3 separate regions of the Homo sapiens genome follow, and regions 2 and 3 are each linked to region 1. Evidence: fine-mapped expression QTL. A gene starts in region 1. Each other region holds a variant in brackets. All regions are shown on one strand. Distances are between the middles of the regions.

What was found. PIP is the estimated chance that this variant, and not a neighbour inherited with it, causes the effect. A credible set is the group of variants that fine-mapping cannot tell apart.
Region 2: its variant is the best candidate, but not a certain one, in a credible set for the expression of BORA in tibial artery (GTEx, PIP 0.58).
Region 3: its variant is the best candidate, but not a certain one, in a credible set for the expression of BORA in adrenal gland (GTEx, PIP 0.73).

Annotation. Positions count from the first base shown.
Region 1 is chr13:72,722,174-72,732,870 of GRCh38, reverse strand. BORA (BORA aurora kinase A activator) reads right to left here and starts at 4,948. Exons shown (of 12, transcript NM_024808.5): 1 at 4,864-4,948; 2 at 3,778-3,945; 3 at 1,484-1,590. The coding sequence starts at 3,930. It overlaps MZT1 (mitotic spindle organizing protein 1), which reads left to right and starts at 5,242. Exons shown (of 3, transcript NM_001071775.3): 1 at 5,242-5,347. The coding sequence starts at 5,269. RefSeq lists enhancers at 4,667-4,716, 5,437-5,506 and silencers at 4,927-5,076, 5,600-5,781, 5,737-5,796.
Region 2 is chr13:72,919,806-72,930,502 of GRCh38, reverse strand. The region is part of intron 13 of PIBF1 (progesterone immunomodulatory binding factor 1); the gene reads right to left. Among named protein-coding and RNA genes, the nearest start is that of KLF5, 130 kb to the left of the region's middle. The variant C/T (reference allele first, on the strand shown) is at 4,868.
Region 3 is chr13:72,802,490-72,813,186 of GRCh38, reverse strand. The region is part of intron 5 of PIBF1 (progesterone immunomodulatory binding factor 1); the gene reads right to left. Among named protein-coding and RNA genes, the nearest start is that of PIBF1, 26 kb to the right of the region's middle. The variant G/A (reference allele first, on the strand shown) is at 5,410.

The DNA.
Region 1 (10,697 bases):
GTATCTCTTGACTGATCAATATAATAATTGTCCATCATTCAATATATTGAAGAAATGAGACAAAATAATTAAGCATAATTAAGTTCGTGTGAAACAAAAAATTAGTCACTGTGACTCATTTGCTTTTAGATATTCATCTCACCTTCTCTTTCAAAGGTATTATTTATTTACTTATTTATTTATTTTATTTTTTTGAGATGGAGTCTTGCTCTGTCCCCCAGGCTAGAGTGCAATGGCATGATCTCAGCTCACTGCAACCTTTGCCTCCTGGGTTCAAGCGATTCTCCTGTCTCGGCCTCCCGAGTAGCTGGGATTACAGGTGTGCACCACCATGCCCGGCTAATGTTTTTGTATGTTTAGTAGAGATGGGGTTTCACTATGTTGGCCAGCCTGGTCTTGAACTCATGACCTCAAGTGATCTGCCCGCCTCAGCCTCCCAAAATGCTGGGATTACAGGTGTGAGCCACCACACCTGGCCTCAAAGGTATTATTTAAATTTAAGTTAAAATCCTTTCATGCTTCATCCTCATTCTATTCCCTTCCTATTAACACTCTGGGTGGACATTAATTTTATGATTGAATGGTCATCATGTTACCAAGCAAAGAGAAGATGGAGGAGAAAAGCCAGTAAGTATTTACCAGAATATCTCAATATGTGTGCAACGTTGTGTGACTGAATTCTTAAGTCAAAGGGAAAAGGATTATCCTTTGTTTTGGACTAACAACATGTCTACCTTAGGACAGCAAATTAAAATCTGGTCATACCATGTATTTGATTTTTTTCAAATATTAAAAAATCAGACTATAAAACATATAAACAAGAGTCCCTAAAACTACAAAAGAATAATAGGACCTTACACTTTGTAATAAAAAACTAAATCTGCAGTACATTAGTGCCTTGAAACCTAAACAACACATCAACAAATAAGACTGCACTGGGTGATATGTAGAATTCTAGAAAATGTAATTCAGATTCCAAGTGAATTGTTACAGTTGGATGATGTCTAAAAAACCGCTCTGTTGCTAATGGATACCCTTCCATTCAGTGCATACGTAACTCTTTGAGGGGGTTTTAGGTTTCCCCAAACATAGATAACAATGAAACAGCATTTTGCTTTACCCCAAATCATCAAAAAGACAAACTGAAACAAGTTAATGGCAGAAGCCACAACCATGTAGAAAAGTGCAAATTTCAAAATGTTCTTCTCTTAACTGAGTGCTAGGGGTACAGAGCTGTCACCTCAGTAGCAGAGGGAAAAGGTTACTTGTAAAAGAAAAAGGTATCTACTCAGGTCTGGAACTGTTGGCAAGAAAATCTTTCTGAATGTAGTTCTTTGAACTCATTCATTTAGATAGAAAAAATCTGCATCAAAATTTTTTCTCCCTGATACCTTTACATAGAAAAATACTCAACATTTAGAATTTCCTACCTCTCTTCACTTGAGAGTGTTATTAGACTTAGGTGCAAGAAAGGAAAACTTACCGAGAATGACTTAAGTATAAAGCTTGACGATGAATATCTTCTGGGTCTATTTCTACAGGATTTATTACAGCTAGTTGATCAATAGACCATCTAAATTTCCCTGGAGTCTTAACAAAAGAAAGTGAGCTTATGAGTAAAGGCAAACTAAAATAGTTCATCAAAATGCTAACCTATGTGAGAAATAATATGAATGGTTATAATATGAAAATATTTTAAAGCTTGTATTTTAAAATTTGACTTTACCATGAAATTAAATGGCAAAGGGTAATCATATCACATTCGATCAACTGACTTAATTGTATCTCTCTCTCTCTTTGTTTAAGACAGAGTCTCGTTCTGTCACCGAGGCTGGAGTGCACTGGTGTAATCTCAGCTCACTGCAACCTCCACCTCCCCGGTTCAAGCGATTCTCCTGCCTCAGCCTCCTGAGTAGCTGGGATTACAGGCACCCGCCACCACACCCAGCTAATTTTTGTATTTTTTTTTTTTTTTTTTTTTTAGTAGAGATGGGGTTTCACCATGTTGGCCAGGCTGGTCTCAAACTCCTGACTTCAAGTCATCAGCCCACCTTGGCAGTGCTGGGATTACAGGCATGAGCCACAGCGCCCAGCCTGTATCTCTTTTAAAATATCAGAATCTTTCACCTGGGTTGGAATTACGTAATACGAGAAAAATCACAACAGAGTAATAAAGATATAAAACTTTCACAATTAACACTCATCAGTGTGATAAACTAAGCCCATGTAAAAGTAAAAATCTCTCACAGTTAACAAACGTCTTTACTTTCACTAAGAAGGAACTGAAATTAAAGTCCTTAGTCACTTTGGAGGTGGCTGCAAAAGCTCACAACATAGTTGATCCTTAAAATAATTATGAATGGCAACCAGTGCTGCCTTTCTGTACTCAACCATGCAACTGAATTAAAGGTTTATCCAAATCCTAATCTGTAATTAGAAATATATTCTAGGCAAATTCAGTCCTAAAAACGCAAGATGCCATACATTCCAACTTTGAGGATTAAGCTGCCGTCAATCTATTATTTATTTTTAGTAAGACCAAGAGATAAATTTTAATGATTCAATTAAAAATCATAAGGTCAGATTGATGAAATGACTCAATATAAACTGCTCGACCTTCCACTAGTACATACTTGCTCATTGTAAAACCTGTATGAAAGTGTAGCAGAAACAGCCACCCTATTTGCAGTTTTTCTAAGTAACTTGGTAGGTTGAAAGATCCAAGGTCAAAAGAACTTATCCAGTGTAGCAAATAACAGTAAAATAAGATAAAGTGGCCCGGGCATGGTGGCTCATGCCTGTAATCCCAGCACTTTGGGAGGCTGAAGTGGGTGCATCACATGAGGTCAGGAGTTCGAGATCAGCCTGGCCAACATGGTGAAATCCCATCTCTACCAAAAAAAAAAAAAAGATAAAGTGATGAAGCCTTTTCTAATATCCTGAAGAACACTTTTCCTTCATATTACTATTGTCCTAAGTACTAATCATATCACCTATCACACTGCCTTGATATTACTCATCTAGTTCTGTTTAACACATTAAAATAGGGGTTAGTTTCTTTTTATAATAGATTGCAAGCTAAGAATTATTTTGACAGTTTCAAATGGTTGGGAAAACAAACAAAAAAATATCTTGTGACATGTGAAAATTATATGAAATTCAAATGTGTCCATAAATAAAGCTGTATTGGAACAGAGTAACATTTATCTCTTTACACATTGCCTATGGCTGCTTTTGTGATACAAGACAGAAGTGAGTAGTTGTGACAGAGACCAAATGACCTGTAAAGCTTAAATATTTACTGTCTGGCCCCTAACAGAAAGTTTGTGACCCATACATCGGAGTATAACCTCCTTAAGGATTTGTGCCTAATGATCCTAACTTGTTCACAGTGTAATCCCTGCTTAGCACTGTATCTGACACATAGCAACACTCAAATAATGTTTGCCAAATAAGTGAGAACAGAATATTAGATGATGCAGCTTCTTCTCTAATGTATTAGTAGCTATATCGTCAACCACAGAATGTAGCTACACCCACAACTGCAGGAAGCTAACGTATGTTCTTGAACTTAAAAAAAAAAAAATCTTCTAGCTAACTTATTAACCTAACCACTAGATTATAATGAACACTACAATTTAAAAAAGTATATTGCAGCTATATATGCTCCATAATGTATTTCCTCCTTACCTTGTAAAGACAGATGTTTACATTTAAAATTATTTGTAATTACTTACATTTAAAATTAGTTGTAAACACTAGTCAGGAATAACTTACTGGTAATTTTGTTGATTTAAAAACAGAAGGACTGGCGAGAGTTTGTTCATGGAGATTAGAATAATCACTAGGACTTTCAAAAGGATTTAAAACAGGGATCCTTCCTGGAGTTTCTGGTGTTATTTGCATCTTTGATTCCTTGACATCTCCCATAGCACAGAGAGAAAACTAAAAAGAAATCAAGAGTATGCATGTTAAAATTACAAAGTCCCATAGATATTAATTTTAACTATTAAAATGTACTCGACAAATGTGTCACAAAAAACAACTCAAAACCTCACACTCTTGGGGCTATGATACAGCTTACAAAAAAAGTATCACATATAAATGTTCTCAACTGATCCTCGAAACAACCTTGAAAGCTATAGCAGTAACTTACTAGTGATATTATTTTGCGAAAGTATTAAGCTCAGAGAAGTGAAGTGGCTTATACGCAGCAATCAAATATGAATGAATTCAGATCTGCCTCTGAGGAAACTAAAGGTTACAACAGGCCCAGATCTCTTCTCAACTAAAGGACTTATAGCTACAATTTTTTTTAAATTCATCATCTCATGTCTCAACACTATGAACATTCTTCGGATACCCTATCCAACTACAGTTGCTATTAAACAATTCTTTGTAGCAAGCAGGTAAGAGATGAGGAAGCTTGTGCCTTTCTTGCACATGAGTCCTAGCCAGAGAAGTATGATTGACAGGGGCTAGGAAATTAACTGCCTGGGGTCCCCTTTCCTCCAAAAATCCTCCTTTCGCCAAGACCTCCCCTCCACCCCTCCCGGGATAGAAAGGGAGACTGCATTACTTGCAATCAAAGGAGGCTACAGAGGCTACACCTTGGCGGGGTGGGGTGGAAAAGAGTCTACTTCTGGAAGGTTGAGATGCAGCCGGCTTCCCTGGATGGAGTGCGAAGGAGGCGTCGCCCCCAACCCTACGTGGCCACTCTTTCTGGTGCCCCTCTCTTCCACACCTACTCCCTGACTGCTCCCATTCACCAGGGGCGAGCGGGCAGGCAAGTCAGGAGCTGGGAAAAGAAACCTCTCCATTCAGACAGGAGGAAAGGCCAGGGACCACAAAGAGCGTACCTACCGGTGCGTACAAAACGAAGCCCCCAGTACCGACTCCAGGGAGCTCCGGGGGCCAGGCCAGCTTCCACGACAGGCATAGACTCTTTAACTCCCCGCTTCCGCGCTGTCTTGGGCCAACCAGGGCACGGGGCTTGTGAGCGACTAGCCAATCGTGTCGTCCCGCCATCCGCGAACCAGCCAATCGCACGGAGGCCGCGTAGGAAATTCGAATGGCAACTCCTCGCTCCACGTTCCGCGCAGAGGAACGTGGCTCCAAATTCAAATCAACGCAGCCTCACGCCGGCGGCGAGCGCGAGGGGCGGAGCCTGCCCGGCGTGGGCCGAGACGCGCTGTGTGATTGCCTCGGAGAGAGGAAGGCGCTCCAGTTCCGGGTCAGGCCCTTCTCCCGCCTCCCTCGGCCTTAGCCATGGCGAGTAGCAGCGGTGCTGGGGCGGCGGCGGCGGCCGCGGCGGCGAATCTGAATGCGGTGCGGGAGACCATGGACGGTGAGTTTCCGTTGCGCTCCCTTTACCTTGCGTGCCTTCCCAGAGCCAAGGCCCCCAGGCGGGAATGAGCCTGGGGAGGACTTCAGGTCCCCTTAGTGCCCCAAACGGCATCTTCCAAGATCTTTGGTAGGGACCTGCCAGGGCCGCAGGGCTGATGGCCCTATCCCTTGAGAGTTGTCTCCGCCGCTGCGTAGTTTGTCGCGCGCGCTAGGCGTTGCGGCCCCTAGTCAGCCGGTTGCGCACCGCGTCCCTCTCGCGCGAATGCCGCGCCCCCTCTATCCCGCATCCCAGGTCCGCCCTACCCGCCCGATCTCCTGCGGTGACAGCGTCACGCCCACCCCACCCAGTACACCCGTTCCCTCCTGCGTGCCGCGTCCCACCCGATTCCCGCCCGGGGCGCTTCGGGGGTCCCCAAGGTTGGGATCCCGGCGGGGACAGGGGCCAGGTGTTTGGTCACCGCTATGCCTCCTGTTCTTCGCACTTAAGTAGGCACCTTTAATATCCGGCGAATGAACAAGTTCCCCTTTGGTCATAATTATCCTAGTTTCCTCTTGAAGCGGGTGACACCAGTGCCCAAGTGCTATGGTGTCGCCTGTTTTCGGCCCCGGAGGCACGTGTGTGTGAAGCCTACACAAGTGTTGCAGAACACGAAATTTGTGTCTTGCGGTTACCCTCTGTCTACCCTCTAATGTCGGTTCTGCCACTTTATGCCCCTGTGGTGAGCTTGGACTAGATACTTAAACATCATTGAGCCTGTTTAGTTTTTTTTTTTTTTTTTTCTGTAAAATAAAACCCTACCTCCAGGAGTTGTGAATATTTAAATAAGACAACCATGTAAAAACATATCAAAGATGATCAATTATTTTTATATTATTTCAGATGGCCTCTCTCTTGTAGTCTTCTTTCTTTGTCTCCTTTTTACTCACATCCACCTGTATTATGAGTGTTTGATCGATGTTGTTATTTGCAGTGGGCCTAGACGTTTTCCAGGGTCTACTCACGTCAGCTTCCGTCTCTGTTAAAAGATAACCCTATGAAATTCTCACTGCTGTATCTCTCTCTCCTTCACCGTAGGCTCTTTTTTTCTTTTTTGAGACACAGTCTTGCTGTAGTTGCCCAGGGTGGAGTGCAATGGCGCAACCTCGGCTCACTGCAACCTCCGCCTCCCGGGTTCAGGCGATTCTCCTGCCTCAGCCTCTGGAGTAGCTGGGATTACAGGTGCCCGCCAGAACACCCGGCTAATTTTTTGTATTTTTAGTAGAGACGGAGTTTCCCCATGTTGGCCAGGTTGGTCTCGAACTCCTGACTTCAGGTGATCCACATGCCTCGGCCTCCCAAAATGCTAGGATTACAGGCGTGAGCCACCATGCCCGGCCTCATTTTCTTATGTAGCACTTGCAGAGGGGCTGCTGGCTTTTTCTGCACTGGTCCTGGTTTTCTTTTCAAAGAATTACACTTTTAGAGCCTTTGCATCTAATTTTTCACTTGTTCAGTATCTACCTTGCTGTTTTTCTGAGAATGTTACTCTTAATATTCAGCTTATTTTTCTATCCTTTTCGATGTATCAACACTTAATAGTTTTATTTTGTAAGTGGATTTATGTATGAATATATATATGTGTGTGTATATAAATATAAATTTACTGTCTTGTATATTTCCTTGGAAAAAGGTAGAGTATAAGACCTCACTTCTAGCCTATTTTCTTAGGTTAGCTGTACTTAGGTTCCTTATGTATATGGCCACAGGATCCCATTTGAACAGAAAACTCACATTTTCTCTGGTGGAATCACTGATGTACAATTGAGAACTGATGGTTTGTGTTGGCTGCATCATCAAGATCTCTTCTGAGAAAACTTGGTGTGAAATGAAGATTATAAAGAGAGTAAGAACACAAAAAAGTGAAGTAAAACAAAAAATGAAGGAGAGGGGATGTGGTGTTACACAGTATTTAAATCAACCCGTGAGATCAAAAATAAAATTTTCAAAACTTTTTGAATACCATTTCTCCCCTCAATGGTAGCATTTGTGAACCTCCCTTTAAGTCATGTGAATTGCAGAACTCTTGGCTACATTTGCATTTTGATCATGAAATGAAAGGATTTTGTTAAAGACATGGAAGGAAGCAGGCTAACTTTCTATTAATAAATTATCTGTGCACCTCACTCTGAAAAGAACTATCTCTGCCAATTTAGAATAAGGTCTGCATGAGATCTCTGCTTTCATCCTTATATCCCTAAAATTCTACACGCTTAAAATAGTCGTGCCTTTTCAACAACACCCCCCTCGCAACCCACTGTGTATGGTTGCCTCTTTTGCTTTTCAACTTTTTGGTATGTTAGGTACTCTCTATTGATTGCTTTTTATACCTTAATTTTTATTTTCCTCTAAAATCGTCCTGTGCATCTGAATTTTAATTTTGATAATTATTCCTTATGAGAGGCTTTATCATAGCACTATTTTTTTTTTTTTTTTGAGACCGAGTCTGGCTGGAGTGCAGTGGCGCGACCTTGGCTCACTGCAACCTCCGCCTCCCAGGTTGAAGCTGGGGATGGGAACCAATTCTCCTGCCTTGGCCTCTGGAGTAACTAGGATTATAGGCGCCCGCCACCACGCCCAGCTAATTTTTGTATTTTTAGTAGAGACAGGGTTTCACCATGTTGGCCAGTCTGGTCTGGAACTCCTGACCTCAGGTGATCCACCCGCCTCAGCCTCCCAAAGTGCTGGGATTATAGGCGTGAGCCACTGTGCCCGGCCTGTAGCACCACTTTACATATATATATGTGTATATATATATATATATATATGTATATATATATATATATTTAGTAGTAAGTACGGGTGCCTGTAATCCCAGCTACTTGGGAGGCTGAGGCAGGAGAATCGCTTGAACCTGGGAGGCGAAGGTTGTCGTGAGCTGAGATTGCGCCACTGCACTGCAGACTGGGTGACAGAGCTAGACTCCATCTCAAAAAAAAAAAAAAAAACACGTTATAGAGAAAGGAGTTAAGAGAATCTATGGTATATAGATTCCATTTGACTAGCACTGCAAGGCAGTACCAGCGAAACAGTCCATGCTACCACCATCAATCCAGTTGCACATTTGAGAAAGAAATCTAGAAGTCAGTCTTGCTTTCTCACCTCCTCTGCCTCCTGTTCTTCACTAAGCCCTTTCAATTCTTGACTCATTTCAGGTTGGCTAAATATCTCCTGTTCATCCTACCCACCAGTCTTTTATCAAAATTGTGATATAACTGGACTTTTTAAAGATTCATTTGATACTCAGCCAAAAAGTCCTTAAAATGCAAGTTTGATTTTTTTATGTTCCTATTTTATATCATCCAGTAGCTTTCCACAGTTCTAAGATCTTCACTAGGACTTACCTCATATTTTATACCCATTCACCCCGTTAATTACATTGCCTTCACAATAGCAGTTCAGGTCTGAATTTACCAAGTTCCCTCTAGTGTAGGGACCATCACACAAGCTGTTTTCTTTGCTCTCAACCATCACCCTTCCTCCTGCCTCTGTATTAGTCTGGTTGATTTCTACTCACTTTTGATGTCTAAGTGTAATTGTCACTTCTTCAGACAAGTCTTTGCTAAACACTGTGTCCTTCCAAACTTGGTAAGATGCCCTTGTAATTTGTTTCAGAAGTATTCCACTCTTTATTTATTTTACTTATATCTGGAATCAGTTATTACTTTAATATCTATCTCTCCTCCTGGACTAATATCTGTGAGGAGTGGGACCATATATACCTTGTTCATAACTGTATTTGCAGCAGTAGCATAATAGGCACAAAATACATATAGTTAGAGGTTGATTATCTCTCATCCAAAAACCTTGGGACCATGTTTTGGATTTCAGATTTTTTTTTTTGTAATATTTTCACATACATAATGAGATATCTTGGGGATGGGACCCAAGTCCAAACACAGAATTCTTGTATGTTTTATATATACCTTATACACATAGCCTGAAGGTAATTTTGGTTTTTTCCCTCAGGGATGCTGAATGAACTGTGTATTGTGCACCTGCATTTTGACTTTGATCCATTATATGAGGTGTGGAATTTTCCACTACGGTGTTATGTCAGTACTTAATAAGTTTTGGATTTTGCGGCATTTCACATTTCAGATTTTGGAATTAGGAGTGTTCAACCTGTACTGATCATATGGTAGGCACTAAAGAAATAGTTTTTGATTACAGGCGATTTGTGAAAATAGGAAGTAAAAATAGGTGTCCATTTGAAAAGAAGGCTTAAAGAAGAAACCACAAATGAGATGGACTAAGAAAACAGCATTGAGTTATATGAAGGGAGGATAAAAGGCAGAGGAGAAAAGCAAGAACAAAGGCATGAAGTCAGGAATAAGCATAGCCTTTATACGTGGGGGGGTCTACCATGAAGAGAACAAACTGGAAACTGGAGAGAGAAGGGAGAGAATCAACTGAAAAACTGTTAGAAGCATCATAGAATTCATCAAGGTGACTGGTGATTAAAAAGTTTAATATGTAGTGTTCCAGTATACTGATGGTAACCACTTAGAATGTACAAGGGCTAAGTAGAATCCATTTGTGAAGACAGTCAAAAATAAAGTGAAGATTCAATATGGTAGATTGAGCACTTGCTGAAACTCTAAGCATATAAAAAAATAGGAAATAGTAAGAAAATATAATTATCAGGATAGACCTGTTCAAAAGCAAGAAGGGAAGTCTCCATTGATTAGGAAGAGAGAGGTTTCCCCCCAAAAGAAAGGAGCAGATGGGAACCACAGCAGGGGATTGTCGGGAATAGAATCTGACAAAGCATGCTACCCTGCCTCACTGAAGTTGGGAGTCAGAAATGTGCCATTTGTCACAGCCAGAGATTGAGAAGCACCATCCATGTGTTTTTTGGATCTGGACCAAAAATACTACAAGGCCTGATCTAGAGGCCTAAAGCTAGGGTACGGCTTCCTATCTTAGAATGGGCCACCAGTCCAGGACACCTAAAATAAATCTATGGAAGATGAGTTTTCAGCCAAGAATGACAAAGCACCTAAGGTAGATGAAAAACATGAGCAACTAACATGGAAAAGGAAAAAGAGGGAAAGTGGTAGTAACAGGGAACTCTTTTTTATTGAGCCCTACCGTATGCCAAGCACCATTCCAAAGGACTGCAAGGCAGTGTCAGCAAAACAAATGGATACCATTCTAAGTGTATCCTTTAATTCTCACACTAATCCTTTAAAACAGGTACTCTTATTATCCTCACTTTCGAGAATGGTGAAATAAGGCACAGAGAGAGTAACTTGCCTACTAAATACTACAGCTAGAATTTGAACACAGGTAGTCTGGCTCTAGAGATCAC
Region 2 (10,697 bases), 200 kb before region 1:
AAGAATAAAATCTATTCCTTCTAACTATGGTGGGAGGAAGTGGTATATTTCTTTAAAGAACTGCTAATAATTTTGAGAAGACATATTGCTCCAAAGAACCTCTCTGCATTTCCAGTAACTTAACATTTTCATATTTATCATATTTTCATATTTTATACTAGTTAACCTATTAATCTGTGAATTGCAGAATCCATGGAATCCTAGATGGAATGTTTTATAATGACAAAAAGTAAGATAACTGTGCTTTAAATAAAATCATAGGGCAGAAAAAATTCTATTGTATTTTAATATTTCCCAATATCAGATAAAGAAATGCAGACAACATTCTAAAAAATAATGTTAAGGCCAGGCGCGGTGGCTCATGCCTGCAACCCCAGCACTCTGGGAGGCTGAGGCAGGAGGATCACTTGAGGCCAGGAATTCAAGACCAGTATGGGCAACAGGGTGAGACCCTGCCTCTGCAAAAAATACAAAAATTAGCTGGGCATGATGGTGCATGCCTGTGGTTCCAGCTACTTGGGAGGCTGAGATGGGGGGATCACGTGAGCCCAGGAGTTCGAGGTTACAGTGAGCTAGGATTGTGCCACTGCAATCCAGCCTGGGGTGACACAGAGACCCTGTCTCTAAAAATAATAATAATAATAAATAGTGTTAAATATCATTCTATATATCTATTTCTAAGAACTCATACCAAATAAAAAAGATGAGTTCTGGCAAAAGTTTATAAAGTGATTTGAGTTGCTTGTTTAGATCTAAAATTCTTTCAACTGGCATTAGAGATGGAAAAAGCATACAGTCCTCATTTTTTGACAACCACTTTTTTTTTAAACTTTACTGACATACAATTTTACTGATATGCAACTTAAATATCATAAAGTCCACCAATTTAAAGTGTACAATTCAATGATTTTTAGTATATTTAGAGTTGTGCCACTATCACTATAATCTAATTTTAGAGCATTTTCATTATCTCAAGAAGAATTTCTGTGTCCATTACCAGTCACTCTCCATCCTCCCCACATTCCAACTTCCTCCTTTGCTCCTCAAATTCAACCTTAGGGAACCATTAATCTTTCTCTCTTTATAAATTTTTAAGGAGTTTACAGTTTATGACTATATTGTTCTTCATTTCCCAATAAAAATATACTAAGTTCTCTCTAATTTGACCCTAAAATAACAAGATTTCTACAAATAAAATAAGCCTTAATGTGAATTTTGCATTTAAAATCCGTTGATTCCATTATACGTTTGCAAGCATCAGTTTATCATTAGCTCTATTTTTATTAGGTTAATTAAAAAATCTTGGAGCTATCTTTATTCACATTTTTATTCTTGCTTTCTTACTCTTCATACATGTTAGGTGTTAACTTTTTTTTATCTTTTTGTGTCCCACAGAACTTCACACTAGGGTCACTTAAACATGGTAATTTTTCAATAAATATGTTGAAGGTGTAGAACAAGTATGTGTATACTCAGTATAGAACAATAAACACAATCAAATGCAATTACACAGAACTAGAGTTACAAATGAATGAAATGGAAGACAAAGACATGCAAGAAAATGAGATGCAGAGGTCACATATTACCAACAATCTGAACAAGATAATGACTTGAAGACATCAAGTTTAATAATGTTAAATTGTTCATTTGGTTTGAGTGCTTTTATTTTGTTTGGGAATTCTATAATGTTCTTATACAGATAGGGTGATACCGCTTACCAATAAAAATATCATAAGTCATAAAACACTGACTCAAGAAATTCTTGCCGGGTGAGGTGGCTCACGCCTATAATCCCAGCACTTTGGGAGACTGAGGCAGGCAGATCACCTGAGGTCAGGAGTTCAAGACCAGCCTGGCCAACATGGTGAAACCCTGTCTCTACTAAAAATACAAAAATTAGCTGGGCGTGGTGGCAGGCGCCTGTAATCCCAGCAACTGAGGAGGCTGAGGCAGGAGAATCGCTTGAACCTGGGAGGCGGAGGTTGCAATGAGCTGAGATGGTGCCATCACACTCCAGCCTGGGGGACAAGAGCAAGACTTCATCTCAAAAAAAAGAAATTCTTGGTATGCTAGTGCTTAAGCCTTAACACCAGGACTACTTTCTTCAAAAAGGAATTTCCCTGATTTTGACTGGGAGATTCCAAGTAAGGAAAATCAACTCTAAATAGAAGGAAAGTATCTAAGGTATCTTCAAATTGCTTACAAATATACTCTACAGTGCTTTGATTACTAGTTTATAGTACAATTTTACTGAGAAAAACTTTCTGAGAATTGATGGTGACGGGAAGGACCGTGAGTATTAGTATGACTGTTGATGTCATTTATGATGCATAATGATAATAATGTAGAAGACAACATGGTACAATTGGTCTCCAGTATATATGGGGTTCACATTTTAAAAACTCACCTCTAAGTCAGTTGTAAGAACAGTAAAACACATTTCCTCATATATATATGTATATATATATATATATATGTATATATATGTATATATATGTATATATATGTGTGTGTATATATATATGTATATATATATATATGTGTATATATATATATACACACATATATTAGAAATGGTATTAAAGTTCTCAGTTGCCCTAAAAGACCCATTTAGCCCACTAATGTAGTACAAACACACATACACAGAAAAGAACAAAAGATAATATAAAATCTTTCATTAAAAGATTATACTCAGATTTATTAAGATTGTATTATTAAGGATATAAGAGATTATATTAAGATTTAATGAAAAGAAATATAAAGATATATTTAAGCAAAAGAACACAGCAGAAACAAGAAATATAACTGTTTTTCATCATTATAATACTTACAGTAAAACAAAAACAGTAAAAAAAAATTAGGCCAAGGCAGGCAGATCACTTGAGGCCAGGAGTTTGAGACCAGCCTGGCCAACATGGCAAAACCCCACCTCTACTAAAAACACGAAAATTATCTGGGTGTGGTGGCACACATCTTTTTTTTATTTTAATTTTTATTTTTGAGTTGGAGTCTTGCTCTGTCACCAGGCTGGAGTGCAGTGACGCGATCTCGGCTCACTGCAAGTTCCGCCTCCCGGGTTCGCGCCATTCTCCTGTCTCAGCCTCCTCAGTAGCTGGGACCACAGGTGCCCGCCACTAGGCCCGGCTAATTTTTTGTACTTTTAGTAGAGACAGGGTTTCACCATGTTAGCCAGATGGTCTCGATCTCCTGACCTCGTGATCCGCCCACCTCGGCCTCCCATAGTGCTGGGATTACAGGCGTGAGCCACCACGCCCGGACAGTGGCACACATCTTTAATCCCAGCTACTTGGAACGCTGAGGCACAACAATCTATTGAACCCGGGAGGCAGAGGTTGCAGTAAGCAGTGAGCCAAGATCGTGCCACTGCACTACAGCCTAGGCAACTGAGTGAGACTCTGTTTCAAAAAAAAAAAAAAAGGAAATTACTATTTTTTCTTGGTGATGAATATCAATGACTGCAGAAAAGCAGGGTGAATTAGAAGAAACACACTCATTAATTCATTCGAAAAATATTCATGAACACTTCCTTTGAAGAAACATGTATTAAAAACCTATAATCTGCATAGGCACTGAGAATACATAATATCTACTGGGAAGATCTAATAGTCTACTGAGGAAGACAGGCAAATTTAAAAATTACTGTAGTATGCTAAATGCTAAGAAAAGGCATACCACTAAGGAATAAAAACTATACTAACTAATCTGGTGAAGAAGCAGAGAAACAGCATTTTAGGTAGAGGGAAATGCCTATGTAGAGGATGAAGTGCTAGGGAAAATTCTAAGTAGTAGAGTATAGATCAATAATATATGGTGCATGGTGAGGGTTGAAGCTAGAGAGATATAGGCAGAGATATTTTATGAAAAGCCTTGTATGTTTGGATTTTATCCTGAAGTTGGTTAGACATAACACGATCTGGCCCGCACTTTAGAAAGAGTGCTCTATCAGTAGTGTGCAGGATGGCCTGCAGAAGGAAGAAGACTACAGTCATTTAGAAGGTTATGATCATAATCTAGACCAGTGGTCTTTAAAAGTAGTTATGTGCAAAATTATTTCTTGAACTGTGGGAACTTTTACTTACATTTATTTTAATGTTAAATTATCTTAAGTTTTCATTTGCTGTGTAGGTTTTATATCATTATGTGCATACTATTCATATGATAGCACATGCGTACATAATCTATAAATAAATATGAATACATATGCATATATTGCTGAGTGTGTACTCAAATTTTTTCCCAATAAAAATTCGTATCAAAAAGTTTGGAGACCACTGGTCTAGGTCAGCTTTGTCCAATGGAAATATAATGCAAGCCACATATGCAATTTAAAATTTTCTAGTAGCCACATTAATAAACAGTACAAAGCCCTTACCTCATATGATACCAAAAAATTAATTAGAATGGATCAAAGACCTAAATACAGAAGCTAAAACTATAAACTTTTAGAAGAAAACATATGAGTAAATCCTCACAAAATTAGATTTAGCAAAAGATTCTCAGGGCAGCAAAAGCATAAGTAACAAAAAAAATTGGATAAACTGGACTGCATCAAAATTTTAAAATTCTGGGCTTCAAAATGCACCATTAAGAAAGTAAAAAGATTTTAACCATTTCAGTTTTGTCATGAAAAAGAAAAACAGGGCCGGGTGCGGTGGCTCATGCCTATAATCCCAGCACTTTGGGAGGCTGAGGTGGGCAGATCACTTGAGGTCAGGAGTTCGAGACCAGCCTGGCCAACATGGTGAAACCCCGTCTCTCCTAAAAATACAAAAATTAGCTGGGTGTGGTGGCAGGCGCCTGTAATCCCAGCTACTTAGGAGGCTGAGGCAGGAGAATCACTTGAACC[C/T]GGGAGGCGGAGCTTGCAGTGAGCTGAGATTCCACCACTGCACTCCAGCCTGGGCAACAGAGACTCCGTCTCAAAAAAAAAAAAAAAAAAAAAGAGAGAGAAAGAAAAAAGGAAAAAAACAGTGAAAAGACAATCTGCAGAATGGAAGAAAAAATTTCTTATCACATATCAGTTAAGAGACTTGAATCCAGAAAATATAAAAACCTGTTACAGTTCAACAATAAATACCTGGTACAAAGGAGGTACTTAGAAATTATCTATTGAATGAATGAATTCCTGTTCATTCATATCTCCTGTTTCTTCATAACCCAACCAATACTGAGCATTGTCAATCTTTGGAAGTTTTGCTAACCTTATAGATAAACATAAAATCCTGTTTTAAATTAAATTTATTTGTGAGATTAAGCATTGTTTCATGTTTGTCAGACATCTGTATTTCTTACATAGTGAACTGATGTCTATATCCTGTTCCCACTCACTTTCAAATCTGACCTTCATGGTTAGTTTTACTCTATCTCTAAATTATTTAAAAATATCAAGACCCTCTATAATCTCACTGGAACTAACCTTATTTGCCCTTCATGTCTACTCTACTTAACGTCTCACAAATATGTTTTCTGTATTCCTTCCACTGCCTTTTCTTGGTCCTCCAGTCTGAAGATTTTCTTTAAAGGCTCCCGTCGAGTTCCACTTCCTCCATTTTTGACTGTGCCAGCCTTCACAGATCTCTATTCCTCTGACTGACATAGCCTAACCCAACATATGATATAGTACTAAAGTTTATATATTCTTTCATGTATGTTAATCATTTCTCCCTAAACAGATGCAACTCATAAAATGACAGGAGTCTTATCCCCTGTGGTATCTAACTGTAGAGCTTATCAGAGTAGGTACTTAATAAATCTTCTTTTTTTTTTTTCTGGCAGGGTCTCACTCTATTGCCCAGGCCAGGAAGTGCAATGGTGCAAACATGGCTACTGCAGTCTTGACCTCCTGCGCTCAAGTGACCCAGCTCATCCTCCCACATAGCTGGGACCACAGGTGCATTAGGGTGATTGGCTCATTTTTAAAATTTTTGTAGAGGCTGTGTTTCACATTGTTACCCAGGCTAGTCTCAAACTCCTGGGCTCAGGTGATCCTTCCACCTCAGCCTCCTACAGTGCTGGGATTATAGGCGTGAGACATGTGCATAGCGATAAGTACCTCTGGACTGATCTTGTTGTAAGTGCATTTTGTTCAAATGAACACACTGTTAGAAACCATACTCCGAAGTTGCAGCACCTCAACATTAAGGTACACCTATTGCCAATAATGGGCAATTAAAGAAAAAAAATAAAGTACAACTAATGCTCAGTATTAAGCATTGAACTAGCAATTAAAAAGTGCACAAAGAAGAAGGCAAATGTCTTAGATACCAATTCACCACTTCTATATTCAACCTCCTAAAACTTTAAGTGGGCATATTGCTTTGGTGAGTGATTTGGTGCTATAGGTGGATCCTCTTTAGAAGTCTGGGATCTTACAAGTGGGAAGAAAGAAGAGTGTTTAAATGAAATTCAAAACAAGACAAATGAAGAACTGCTCAACTACAGCTGAGTTTATGCCTCCTTAACACAATAAACATACAATGAAAACAAGTCCTAAGATCTTTATTTAAAAAAATTTTTTTTTGAGTTAGAGTTTCGCTCTTGTCGCCCAAGCTGGAGTGCAATGGCGTGACCTGGGCTGACTGCAACCTCTGCCTCCCAGGTTCAAGCAATTCTCCTGCCTCAGTCTCTGGAACAGCTGGGATTACAGGCGCCCACCACTATGCCAACTAATTTTTGTCTTTTTAGTAGAGGTGGGGTTTTGCCATGTTGGCCAGGCTAGTCTCGAACTCCTGACCTCAGGTGATTCACCTGCCTCAGCATCCCAAAGTGCTGGGATTATAGGCGTGAGCCACCGTGCCTGGCCCTGCTAAGATCTTCAAGAAGAATAACTATAAACATGGTCAGGAAAAATGACTCTTGCTAAATGTTATTTTTGGTGTAGAATGTACTGAATTTCTCAAGAAAGCAATGCTTTTTATAAGCTATCTATTGGGACACTTAAATAGATACAATACTTCTTTGTAATTAATACATTAATTGCTTAAATGATTTTCACTTATACCAAGATTAAGTTTGATATCAGCTAGAAACTACCACCACCAGTATATTGGTTGTACACCTAAATATTAAACCAAAATTTCACCTGTTACTTGGTCAAATTAGTATTCCTCCAAGGGTTATCTTTTAGCTCTCTTAGCACTTCTTGATGCCAAATACAGGTTATTGGTTTTGGCTCTGTCCATGGCAGTCTGTATTTCTGATTACTACATACAATTTCCTAACATTTTTAGCCTAGCAAATGTGGACATGACAGAGTTTTGTTTATATCTGAGATATCAAAGCACAATGGAGGATTGACGCTCTGTTCTGGGTTCTTCAGTATTGGTACGGTGTCTTACTATTACCAAAACTCGAAATGAGCAAGAATATGTGAGGCATGCTTATTAGCTATATTAGTTATTTGATCTTTCTCAGTTTTCAGTAGATCAGAGTCCTGTCTCTACTAGCATGGCATCAAAGATGGTTGCAAAGAAGGGGACATGTGCCAGAAGGATCCCACTTTCAAAAAGCTTAAGGCTGGTCCTTATACTATCTACTCAGCTGGAAATGACTAAGGACTAAACAGTGATCTCATGCTGATTATCTGTAGTTACATGAGACTGTCGCTAGTTTCTTCTATAGGCTTACACTTCCAAATTTATCATGAATAGAAAAGCAGCAACTTTTTAAAGAACTATTCCTAAAGCCATCCCAAATGAAATGAGTACAAGTTTCCCCAAGGACAAAAATGAGAACTCATATATATGAGAATAAAGGAAAGGAAAACATGTTTGTCATACACAAAATTTTGCTAGTTTCCTCTGCTTTATTTTTTTTTATTATGAAGTTCAGTAAACTGAAAGTTTTAACTTAAAGCTTTTTATAAAACGAGAGAAACTATAGTACGCAGTAATCTCACAATTTGAAAGGTTTAAGAACGTCAGAACAGTCTCCACATTCAGATTAGCCAAAACAAACACAGAGGCATATACAAAGACCATGTTAGTGCCTGGGTGTCACCATTTAGTGTGGCAGGTTAAAGGGCTTAACCAAAACATGTAACTAGAAAATCATGTTTGCTATTTTCAAAACAATCACAACTGAAAGGAAAACATTACTTCAGATTTTCAAGTTTAGTCAAGGAGAGCCCATTTTATTTTAATCTACTTTAATTGTATAAGCCCTTGTAACTTTCTATAATTGTGTCCCAGAAAGAGTTTTAAAAAATAGGCTGGGTGTGGTGACTCATGCCTATAATTCCAGGACTTTGGGAGGCTGAGGTGGGATGATTGCTTGAGGCCAGGAGCTCCAGACCAGCCTGGGCAACACAGCAAGACCCTGTCTCTACAAAAAAATAAAAAATAAAAAAATTAGCCAGGTACAGCGTGCATGCCTAGCTACTCAGGAAGATAGAAAGGAGGATCACTTCAGCCCAGGAGTTTGAGATGAGAGTGAACTATGATGGTGCCACTGCATTCCGACCTGAGTAACAGAGTGAGACTCTTAAAAATGGACTGATACTAAAGAAAGTTTCATGTTTGGGGGGTATCCCTGCTAATTATTTCAAGAGGCTTCTGTATAATTTTAAAACAATATCGTCTTAAATGAAAACTCAAATTGTGCCTAGTAAAAGATTTCAGAACCCTGGCTTTTCCTCTAAAATTAACTATGTAATTTACTTTAAGAACAAACACATCAAGGTGTAACGACCTAGCACTTACTAAAGATCTACTCTATGTCAGGAACTTCACATCCATTTTCTCATTTTAATTTTGTGGTATTGCCTGGGTTGCAATAGGCAACTAATGATATTTTTCAGTAACTATACAATTAAGTAATGAAAATATAGCACTCAAAAATGGAAGTACTAAAAATTAACGTTTTGGATAACCATTAAAAATGACCTTTCTGAAGAATATCCAATGACATAAGAAAATGTTTACAATGGAATTCTATGACAATAAATTAAACTATTAAATTACAAGCAATAATATCTTAAATAAGAAAGTATATATATATATCTGTATACATTTCCGAGTGGTTATTTTGGATGGTAGGATTACCAGTAATTTTCCAATTTTATGAAATAAACATGGCTTGGTGTGGTGGCTCATGCCTGTAATCCTTGTAGTTTGGGAGGCCGTGGTGGGCAGATTGCCTGAGCTTAGGAGTTTGAGATCACTCGAGACCAGCCTGGACAATATGGTGAAACCCTGTCTCTACTAAAATACAAACAATTAGCCAGGCGTGGTGGCATGCACCTGTAGTCCCAGCTACTTGGGAGGCTGAGGCAGGAGAATTGCTTGAACCTGAGAGGCAGAGGTTATAGTGAGCCGAGATCATGCCACTGCACTCCAGCCTGGGTGACAGAGTGAGTGAGACTCCAACTCCAAAAAATAAAAATAAAAATAAAATAAAATAAACATTACTGTTATAACAAATCAGAAATCTCCTTCCAATTAAATGCTACCCTAAAATATCTAATTCTGGTTGTTGAACATATAAGATTTTAAATCAAATTTAATATGAATGGAATCTATTGTGTAGTAGTTGGAAAATAGGTTCCTTTGAAACTTTAATATATTTTGGTATAGGCTGATGTACAATGAAAACTTTATTTTGCATATAGTTCATTTACTGTTTTGACTGAGTTGTTTTATCATTCGCCTTAAGTTTCCACTGATTTTTTTTTTCTTTTCTTTTTTTGAGAGATGGGAGTCTCTCTATGTTGCCCAGACTGGAGTGCAGTGACTAGTCACAGGTGCAATTATAGTGTACTACAGCTTCAAACTGCTGGTCTCAAGTGATCCTTCTGCCTCAGGCTCCCCAGAAGCTGGGATTACAGGTACATGCCAGTGCGTCTGGCTCCAATCCTTTAATTTCAAATGTGAAGGATTACATATAATTCTCTCAAAGGTTATACTGCTTTTATCTTAAATAAACATAAAAAGAGCGCAAAGCCACCGCTTTCTTTACAAATATCCATTATGAACTCAAATGTGGACTTTGCAAACTTCAGAAATGTATCAGACCCTAACCTGGGATCTTTAGTGCCATTGATCAATTTTGTGCATACAGTAAGCACTCAATAAAAGTTGTTGAATGCATGAAGGAATGCATAAATGTTCTCTTTGGATATCTAGCCTTACTTTCCCGTCATTCAGCTTAGATGACCTGAGAAGCACTTCCTCAAAATAACCCTCTGGCTCACCATGAGAAGAATGCCTGGCACCAGCTGGCAGGAGATATTAATAGCATGCCCATTAGGCACATGTTCAAGGCACATAGATAGCTCAGTGATAGAATCTTTAGAATATTTGGACAGTTAACATTATTTCGAGTATGAATCAGTTGTGGTTCCTTAAATCCTCACTTTAAATATTAAAAACCAACCTCTATTTTTAAAAATTCTTAAAAAAATAGTAATGTGCAACAGCAATAATTGTTTGTGATTCTGAAGAACTCAGCATTTGGGGCTAAGAAAAGCAAAGTTCTAACAGCAGAATTCTTTCTTTTCTGTTTTTCTTTTTTTGGAGACAGAGTCTTACTCTGTCACCCAGGCTGAAGAGTAAGTGGACAATCACGGTTCACTGCTGCCTCGACCTCTTGAGCTCAGGTAATCCTCCCACCTCAGCCTCCTGAGCAGGGTAGCTGGGACTACAGGCAGATGTCCCCATGCCCAGCTAAGTTTTTGTATTTTT
Region 3 (10,697 bases), 80 kb before region 1:
TAATTTAACCTTAAAATAGTAAAATAAGTAGGAGTTCATTTAGCTTTGAGTTTGGCATGACTATGCTCAGTAGTGTGACAACTCTATATTGTCATCATTTTTCTCTATTTGAACTGTGAAACTTTTATTCATACAGTGATGCATGATAGCACCTGGCCTTTATTTGGCTGAAATACCTATCTTACAAATTAAGTTGATGGCTATTTCTTTCTTTTCTTTTTTCTTTCTTTTTTTTGAGGCGGAGTCTCACTCTTACACAGGCTGGAATACAGTGGTGCGATCTTGGCTCACTGCAAACTCTGCTCCCCTACCCCTACCCCGGGCTCAAGCAATCCTCCTACCTGGGACCACAGATGTGTGCCACGACACCTGGCTAAGTTTTTGTTTTGGGGTTTTTTTTTTGTAGTTTTTTGAGACAGGGTCTCATTCTGTCTTCCAGGCTGGACACAATCTTGGCTCACTGCAACCTCTGGCTCCCAGGTTCAAGCAATTCTCTCATCTCAGCCTCCCGAGTAGCTGGGACTACAGGCCTGCACCACCACACCCAGCTAATTTTTGTATTTTTTGGTAGAGATAGGGTTTCACCATGTTGGCCAGGCTGGAGTTTTTGTATTTTTGGTAGAGACAGGGTTTCACCAGGTTGGCCAGGGTGGTCTCGAACTCCTGAGCTCAAGCAATCCTCCTGCCTTGGCCTCCCAAAGTGCTGGGATTACAGCCGTGAGCCACTGTGCCTGGACAGTTGACTACTGTTTTTTTAAACTGTGATCTGTGGTGCTAATGCCATGACAAAATTAAATGCAAACATGGGCAATGACATCATAGTGATAGTACTCTATTATAAATTATTCATTCAGATGAACCATCATATGCATCTGTTAATTTCTGAGGTCATTAAAAAAATTAAATCATAAAGTTAAAAATTATCAAAAAGAACTCTTAGATACTCCAAAACATATCTGTGGAATCTGGCTTAGAAACACTATGCAGATCAAGAGAACGAAGTTATCATGGTATCTCTGGATTTAAACCAAAGTATTTGGTAAGGTCCCTCCTGAGTTTTCCCGTGCCATCATGTAGTGATACATCCTTTTGGCCACTGGGTTCAAAATTTCATCTCAAAACCCAATAAGCCCCTCAAAACTTGCCCCTAAAATTTACAAGTTCCTAGATTTACTAAAGATTATACACACAGTAGCAAAGGGAAAAAAAAGTCTTATGACTCTTTAAAAGATTATGTCTCTTCATACAGCATGTATAAAACAATCAGCTAAATGAAACTTCTTCCCAATTATGTCGTACTTAAAATTGCATTCATTTTAGCTTTCCCATGAATTTTTTTTCCCTCATGCACTTTTATCGTAAGCCATTTGTATTATTTGTAAAAACTTAACAGGTTTGTGAAGGAGCAATTTTTTAGAGGTTTTAGAGGTATAGGCAAGAGAGGGATTTTAGTAAGTCCAAGTTGTAACGTAATAGTGTATGACTTCAATTATATTCTTGAATATGTTAAATATATTAAAACATATTAACTTTATATTGGCGGCAAGAAATGGCATTAATATATACATTTCTCTCTCTTTTTTTTTTTTTTGAGACGGAGTTTTGTTCTGTCACCCAGGCTAGAGAGCAACGGCGCGATCTCCGCTCACTGCAACCTCCACCTCCTGGGTTCAAGTGATTCTCCTGCCTCAGCCTCCCAAGTAGCTGGGATTACAGGTGCCTACCACCACACCCAGCTGATTTTTGTATTTTTAGTAGAGATGGGGTTTCCCGATGTTCAGGTCTTGAACTCCTGACCTCAGGTGATCCATCCACATTGGGCTCCCAGAGTGCTGGTATTATAGCAGTGAGTCATGGTGCCCAGCCAATATATAAATTTCAAATCAGGAAATGTAATTAAAAATTCAAAGTTATTTTTAAATCTCAATTAATAAGTTAACAAAAATAGCTTAAAAAATGATTTGTGGTCAGTGTCCATGAACCCGCCACATTAGAATCTTGGGTTGTTTATTAAAAATTGAGGTTCTGGCTGGGTGCGGTGGCTCACGCCTATAATCCCAGCACTTTGGGAAGCCAAGGTGGGCAGATCACGAGGTCAGGAGATCAAGACCATCCTGGCTAACACAGTGAAACCCTGTCTCTACTAAAAAGATATACAAAAAATTAGCCGGGAGTGGCAGCGTGCACCTGTAGTCCCAGCTACTCGGGAGGCTGAGGCAGGAGAATGGTGTGAACCTGGGGGGCGGAGCTTGCAGTAAGCCTATATTGTGCCAAGGCACTCCAGCCTGGGCAACAGAACGAGACTCCGTCTCAAAAAAAAAAAAAAAAATTGAGGTTCTTAGTTCCACCTCAGACCAAAATAGAACCCATGCAGGTGGCTATGAATCTAAATTTTAAGCAATGCTTATACATTTTAAATTTAATATAAAGAGGCAAATCTATCACTGTTTACTAATTTGTTAAGCATTCTAGGATAATTATAACTGATGGGTATCATCATAAATATGTACCTTACAAAGAAACTTTAAGCTCATCACTTGGATAAGATAAAAAGAAATCTCAGAAAACAGTTAACACTCCCTAAAATATAAAAACTTTAATAAACAAATATGTTTCATCAATGAAATAACTCATTTTCATACAAATAAAATTAACTGAATTACTTACATATGAATACTTAAGATGAACCTCAAGATAATCTTGCAGAATTTTTTAAAGAATGTAACTATGTTTCTAAACAAGGAAGTACTCTTGACAAAATTCTTCTTGCTTCCTAGTTACCAAAGTTCTCATAAGAGAAAAATATTTCACCATTTCCTCATGAAATTTAATAGTTTTATTAAGTGCAGATTCACTAATGCCTTACACTGTATCTCTAACATCACATCCTTTTGATATGAAAAAGCATGCTGAACTAACTCTATAATAGCAAAACAGCAACATATAGCTGAGTTGCATGTGATCAACCAAAATTTTGACCTGCTAATAGAGAAAATTCATAAATAGGAAATAAAGTTATCTATAAGCACTTTTATAAACATAAAGTACCATACACAAGATCATATACATAATGTAACTCAAAATAAGCCAGAATTAGACTACATTACTGACACTTTTAAATAAACTCCGGACTTGAAGTAAAAGATGAGCCCTATTTTCCAGTGTTATAATAGTATCTAGATGTTATTTGCAAATAACTAAAGATCTGGAAAAAATTACAAAAGGAAATCCCAGAAATCCACTAAAACTGCCACTTCAGAAAGAGTAATTTCCTTTTAAAGGTCAAGAATCACATTCTGGCCAAGCGCAGTGGCTCATGCCTGTAATTCCAGCACTTAGAGAGGCCAGGGCAGGCAGATCGCTTGAGGTCAGGAGTTCGAGACCAGCCTGATCAACATGGTGAAACCCCTCTCTACTAAAAATACAAAAATTAGCCAGGCATGGTGGCGCATGCCTGTACTCCCGGCTACTCGGGAGGCTGAGGCAGGAGAATTGCTTGAACCCAGGAGGCAGAGGTTGCAGTGAGCCAAAATCATGCCATTGCACTCCAGCCTGGGCAAGAGCAAAACTCCATCTCCAAAAAAAAAAAAAAAAAAACCAAAAAAAAACCTTCTATTAAATTTCTTAAACAGTTTTAATCTCATACAAACAAAAGCAGAGTCAAATTAACTGTGTAATTGTGTGGCTTTAATGATTTCATGTGGCTTTAACAGAATTTAAAACCCTGAATGTTTTTGGTTTTAACAGAATTAAAAATTCTCAATATTTCTGGTAGGCATAATTATGAAATTAGTGCAATAACTGAGACATCTCTGAATACATATTATGGAACACAAATTTTTGTTTTGATACTCCATTCTCCAAGTTCTAAATATATTAAATTTTACTAGAAAAAGATACTATGTGATTGATTGCAGGCATTTTATATGAAATAATGAATATAAATGAAAATAAGGTAACTAAATGTAAAGCTTTGGGTCTCTAGCTCAAAAATAATCACATTTTCCAAATAGCCCCCAACAGGTTTAATTAAAAAAAAAAAAAAAAAAAAAAAGGGACATATACTGCCCCCAAGTGGTGAAAAAAATTAAGACCATTTTGGATAAGAAAGATCCATAAAGTAAAACGGAAAGACTGAGAGTAATTTTATTTTCTCCAGATTCATGAACTCTCTGTAGAGAATAAACTTTTTAAGTAAAATGGAAAATTTGTTTTCTTAATTGCTGGTCTCAAAACTCAGAGATATGCCTAACAAATACCTTAGTTTCTCTTAGTAAACCACTATGGAGTTGTCATTATTGCTATCATTTTCAGCATTTAGGTGAGTTTCCTGGTATTTTTTGTTTTTGTTTAGTAGCCCTTAGCCTGAGGCCAGTCCCATTCTGTGCCAGGTTGGATGGATCAAGGTGCATGAGAAAATCTTTGGTATTTATGGGAACTGCAGCTGCTCTAAATGAGGAGGAAATTTCAGAGATAGCCAGAGAGGGGAAACTGAATTCTCTGGGTAATTTCTGCTTAAGTATCTGGCTACCCTCTAAACAACATATGTGTAGGACAGACTCTGAGCAGCCCCAATAATACCAAAAAAAATTGAACTGAAATTTGAACACCTGCCCAATAGACAGAGTATGCTGTTTGAGTACAACCAAGTAATTTCCTGCTAAAACAAGAACATCACCACCGTTTAGAGGTACATAAAATGCAGAGTCTCAACAACATAATACTCACAATGTTCTCATCTACACTTACTCGATGGTCTAAACAATTTTAAGTTACTTGACATCTGAAGAAAGAGGAACATGTGACCCATTTCTAAAAGAAAAGACAATCAACAGAGATCAACTCCAAGGTGACCCAGTGTTTGGAATTAGCAGACAAGAATTTTAAAGCTCCTATTTTAACAATTCTCAGTGGTGTAAAGGAAAATATGTTCATAATAAGTAAACAAATAGAGAAATAAAAGCTATAATAAATAACCAAACTGAAATTCTAGAAGTAAAAAATTCCACACTTAAGTACTTACTCAAGAGAAAAAACATGTCCACACAAAAAACCATACTCAAATGTTCTCAGAGCTTTGTTTGTAAAGTCTCTGAATCGGAAATAACTCAAATGCCCATTAAATGGTAAATAACTAGAGCCATTCAATGTAATACCACTCAGTAATGAAAAGGAAGAAATTACTGACAAATGGAAAAAAAAGTTCAGCATTTTCCCATAAAATTAAATGTGACTGGCAGATGGATAGATGGAGAGGTATTTGATAAGACAAATACAATAAAAATGTTAATGGCAGAAATTTACTGATAAATATACTGGTGTCATTGTGAAATTCAAGTTACGTTTGAAAATTTCTATAATAAAATGGCAAAAAATTACACTCTGGGGCAGGTGATCAATTTTGAACAT[G/A]CTAATTTTGGGAATATAAGCTGATTGATAGTTATTAAAAAGAAAACACATTCATTTATAATCAGTCCACTTACCTTTTGAGACCTTCCTCCAATCTGCCCTACTAGTTTGGTGTTCCACTGCTCAGAAAAACTTTACTGTCTACAAACTTGAGATTATACTTTGTGCTTCCTCATCAATAAATGTATTAAATTTTTTTTTTTGAGACAAACTCTTGCTCTGTTGCCCAGGTTGGAGTGCAGTGGCACAATCTTGGCTCACTACAACCTCCACCTCTCAGGTTCAAGCGATTCTCCTGCCTCAGCCTCCTGAGTAGCTGGGACTACATGTGTTTGCCACCACACCTGACTAATTTATGTATTTTTAATAGAGACGGAGTTTTGCCATATTAACCAGGCTGGTCTCAAACTCTTGACATCAGGTGATCTGCCCACCTCGACCTCTCAAAGTGCTGAGATTACAGGCGAGAGCCACTGTGCCCAGCCCAATAAATGTATTAAAATGTTAAATAATGAATAAGATTGGATTTAACAGTTGTATCTGAAGAATACTTCTATTTTTGTTTTTCATTTAGTTCTTTTTATTCCTTTTTTTTTTTTGGCTCTTATCCTTCACCTACTAAAGAGAAAACAATTTCCTGAGAATTCATGATAACACTTCTTACAAAGTCTGCCCATTTCTCCCAAGAGGTAGAAGCAATTCAGGTATCTATTTATAGATGAATGGATAAAGCAAATGTGGTATATACACACAATGGAATATTATGTAACCTTAAAATAGAAAAAAAAAAAAGCGTAAATTAGTTCAACCTGACTGTGAAAGACAATTGTGGAAGACAGTGTGGTGATTCCTCAAGGATCTAGAACTAGAAATACCATCTGACCCAGCAATTCCATTACTGGGTATATACCCAAAGGATTATAAATCATGCTACTATAAAAACATGCACACATGTTTATTGTGGCACTGTTCACAATAGCAAAGACTTGGAACCAACCCAAATGCCCATCAATGATAGACTAGATACTGTGGCACATATACACCATGGAATACTATGCAGCCATAAAAAAGGAAGAGTTAATGTCCTTTGCAGGGACATGGATGAAACTGGAAACCATCATTCTCCGCAAACCATCACAAGGACAGAAAACCAAACACCACATGTTTTCACTCATAAGTGGGAGGTGAACAATGAGAACACTTGGACCAGGGAGAGGAACATCACACACTGGGGCCTATCAGGGGGTGGGGGACTAGGGGAGGGATAGCATTAGGTGAAATACCTAATGTAGATACGGGTTGATGGGTGCAGCAAACCACCATGGCAGGAGTATACCTACGTAACACTACCTGCACGTTGTGCCTATGTACCCCAGAACTTAAAGTACAATAAAAAAAAAAAAGAAAATTCTGTCACATGCTACAACATGGATAAACCCTGAGGGCATTATGCTAATTGAAACCAATCACAAAGGGGCAAATACTGTAGGACTCTACTCATATGACGAATCTAAACTAATCAAAATCATAGAAACAAAGTTAAAAAATGGTTACCAATGACTGGGGGAGGGGAGAGGGAGAATCAGTGTCTAGTGGGTAGTTTTCAGTGTTGCAACATACAAAAGTACTAGAGATCTGTTGCACAATGTGAGTATTCTTTACTGAATTGTATACATGAAAATAAAGTCTTAAATTTAATGTTATGTTATTCACTGTAATTTTTTAAAAGCCTGCCAATTTTTAAAAGCTAGAATTTAAAACCTGTCAATGGCTTTTTGAAAGTCTATATAATTTGTTCTCTATTTTCTCTTTATATATATGTGAAATATAATTTGTCCATTTGTACCACTCTGTTGACCTTCCCCCATAAGGGGAAGTATTTAACTTGCCTAAGTATTCACTGATCCTAATCTTCATGCATTACACAAGCTCAGTAAGCATAAAAGAGTGCTTTATCAGTTTTAAGTGTGGAGGTCTTTAGTTTCTAGACTCAGGCAGGCAATTTACCAGCTTTCAAGCAATTACACCTACTTCAAGTGCTCTGTTTGATAGCAATATTATACATGTGCTGCAGTTTCAGGTTCATCCTTTAAGTCCCTTAAAATTCTTGGGTGAATACCATCTAGTCATGTTTTTTTCCCCAAAGCTTATATTGTATCCAACTTTAAAATTACATAAAGTCATTAATAAGACTAATGTTGTTTATCTTAAAATATCCAACCTTAAATAAGTATGAGTTGAAGAATAAAATATTTGTTGAATCACTTTATGAAGATCTTTTGAATAATGTCATATGAAAAATTTGGATCATGTCTTATTAAAAGTTAGTAACTTCAGGCCAGGTGTGGTGGCTCATACCTGTAATCCCAACACTTTGGGAGGTCAAGGCGGGCGGATGACGAGGTCAGGAGATCGAGACCATCCTGGCTAACATGGTGAAACCCCGTCTCTACTAAAAATACAAAAAATTAGCCAGGCGTCGTGGCGTGTGCCTGTAGTCCCAGCTACTCGGGAGGTTGAGGCAGGAGAATGGCGTAAACCCAGAAGGCGGAGCTTGCAGTGAACCGAGATCGTGCCACTGCATGCCAGCCTGGGCGACAAAGCGAGACTCCATCTCAAAAAACAAACAAACAAAAATTAGCTGAGTGTGGTGGTGGGTGCCTGTAATCCCAGCTACTTGGGAGGCTGAGGCAGGAGAATCGCTTGAACCCGGGAGGCAAAGGTTCCAGTGAGCCGAGACTGTACCACTGCACTGCAGCCTAGGTGACAAGAGTGTGACTCTGGCTCAAAAAAGAAAAAATTTAGTAACTTTATGGTGGTTGCAGCTATATATCATGGACCTTGTCCTGAAACTTACTATGGCAGTGTATCTTACTTATTGAACACTTATTGAACAAAGTAACACTTCCTTTTATTTGTCAAATTTAGGAAAACAGAATCAGTGTACACACTTTTACTGGATATATTTTCAATTTGTTCACTACAAAATAAAATATTAATTCCTCTGTTAGGACTTAGAACAGACACCTCGAAACATGGCACCCTGGCATACTGAGTATTTTAACCTGAAGGAAATTAAGAAAACTGCAGAAACAGGGGGGTCTCCCTGACCTTCTCCCAACCCATCTCTCTTGAAGTGGGCCACATAAATGAAAATTCCCCTTGCCTCTTTCTCCCTTGAAGCAGGTCATCAAACCTAGGAAGGCCACTCTCTTTCTCCCTCCCCTCTCCCCTAAGGTGACAGGCGTCCTGCCCTATACCTAATGGGAAGGAATGTCACAGACAGCCCAAGAAGAATGTGAACAAACAAGCCTTGCTAAATTCTCCCAGTTGATTACCATCAGATCATACACTTTTGTCTTCCAATCATACTTATGCATGACAATCCACAAAAATACATTTTCCCTGGGTCTTTTAGTCTTCATTTCTGAAGGTTCCCATGTCACATAAAATTTATATTAAATTATACATATAAATTATACATAAATTTGTTATGCTTTTCTCTTATTACTCTTTTATTATTGGAGTCTCAGCCATAAACCTTGCAATGGGTGAGGAAAATATATTATTTTTTCTCCCACTATAGTTAAGAGGAAAATTTACTCTTTTGGGTCAAGAAACTTAAAATTAATGACACCATTGGAAAAGTCGAAATTTTCTTGCTACTTCCTTTGGATATGATGGGCATTTCTCTGTTTTTATTGTCTGCTTCAGGCCAACAATAAGTATATATATGCAGCCCACAGACTGAAGAGGAAAGAAACATGAAATACCACTGGGCAAAAAACACTCAGATAAGAACATTCCAAGTAACAGAAGAAAAAACAGAAAACTTCAAATGAAAAACTGACAATTTCATTTAGCACTTTCATAAATTAGGGGTTTGTGATTAGTTTTAAAAGTCTAGAGACAATGGTTCTCACTGATGACAATTGAACCTCAGTAACCTGACAGTGTCCAATCACCTCTTCAACCTCCCCCAGCCTCATTTAAATAACCCAGATCTTTTTGTAAACCCTCCTCTAGTGGTCATAACATTCTCTATCTTCCTTACTCACTTATAAATATATTCTTCAGTTGTTTTTTAAATCGAAACTCAACTTTTTGTGACATAATTAAAACTCTAGCTATTAAGAGATAAATTATCTCACTTTACTAAATTATTATTCTTTAAACCACTATTTAGATATTAAGAAAGTCCCACAGAACTAATCAGGAGTAATTCAATCAACAAACACCCCTCTGTTCTAGTAGTTTCCCCAAATATCATAATCACAGAAACACATACTATTGGCAATACCCCAAATATACATGACTCTTTTTATTACACGGATAGCACTAAAGTGGGGAGCCTTAAACATAACTATAACTGGGTATCCAACAGTACTACCTACACTGTTGGTTAACAATTACATGAATGTCCTTCTACCGTTGTCGACAATGAGAAAATTTTTATGGTTACAATGTGATTTTAAATACAACAGCTGTCATCTCTCTTAAGGAAAAAAACAAAAAACAAAAAACAAAACAAAAAAACAAAAAAAAAACAAGCCTTCCCTGGCTCCATGTTTCCTGTAATTGCCAACTCTCTTTGTTCCTCTATACAGTAGTATTACTCAGAAAGAGTTGTCTATACTCTATGTCCAGTTTATTTCCTCCATTCACTCTCAAACACTGTAATCAAACTGCTGACCCTATCCCTCCTCCAGAACTACTCTTGACAAGGTTTTCAATGACCTTGTTAAATACAATGTCAATTCTTAGTCTTCATCTAACTGTACCTATCAACAGCATTTGAAACAGCTGATCACTCTCTTTTCCTTGACAAACTTTTGCCCTTTGATTTCCTGGACATAAAATTCTCTTAATTTCCCTATTTCACTGGTAACTCCTCCTTCTCTCTCCCACATTTCAATGTTGAAGTGCCCTGGAGCTCAAGCTGTGGTCTTCCTTCTCTTCCCTACACTCACTCTCCTTTGGTAATCTCATCCTGGCTTTAAATATCGTCTTTATGCTGATGACTCTTGAATGCTTATCTTCTAAAGTTCACACCTGTATATCCACATACCTTTGACTGTACATCTAACAGATCTCTCAAACTCAACATGTCTAAGATCCACACTCTTTTGCACTCAAGTCGGCCTCATTCACAACCTACCTATCTCAGCTGAACAGAAATCTATCCTTCCAGTTATTCAAACTAACATTTTTTAGAGTTAATTTGACTCCTATCTTTCTTTAACATCCTCCATCCAATTCATGACTCTACCTTTTTTCTATTGGCTCTA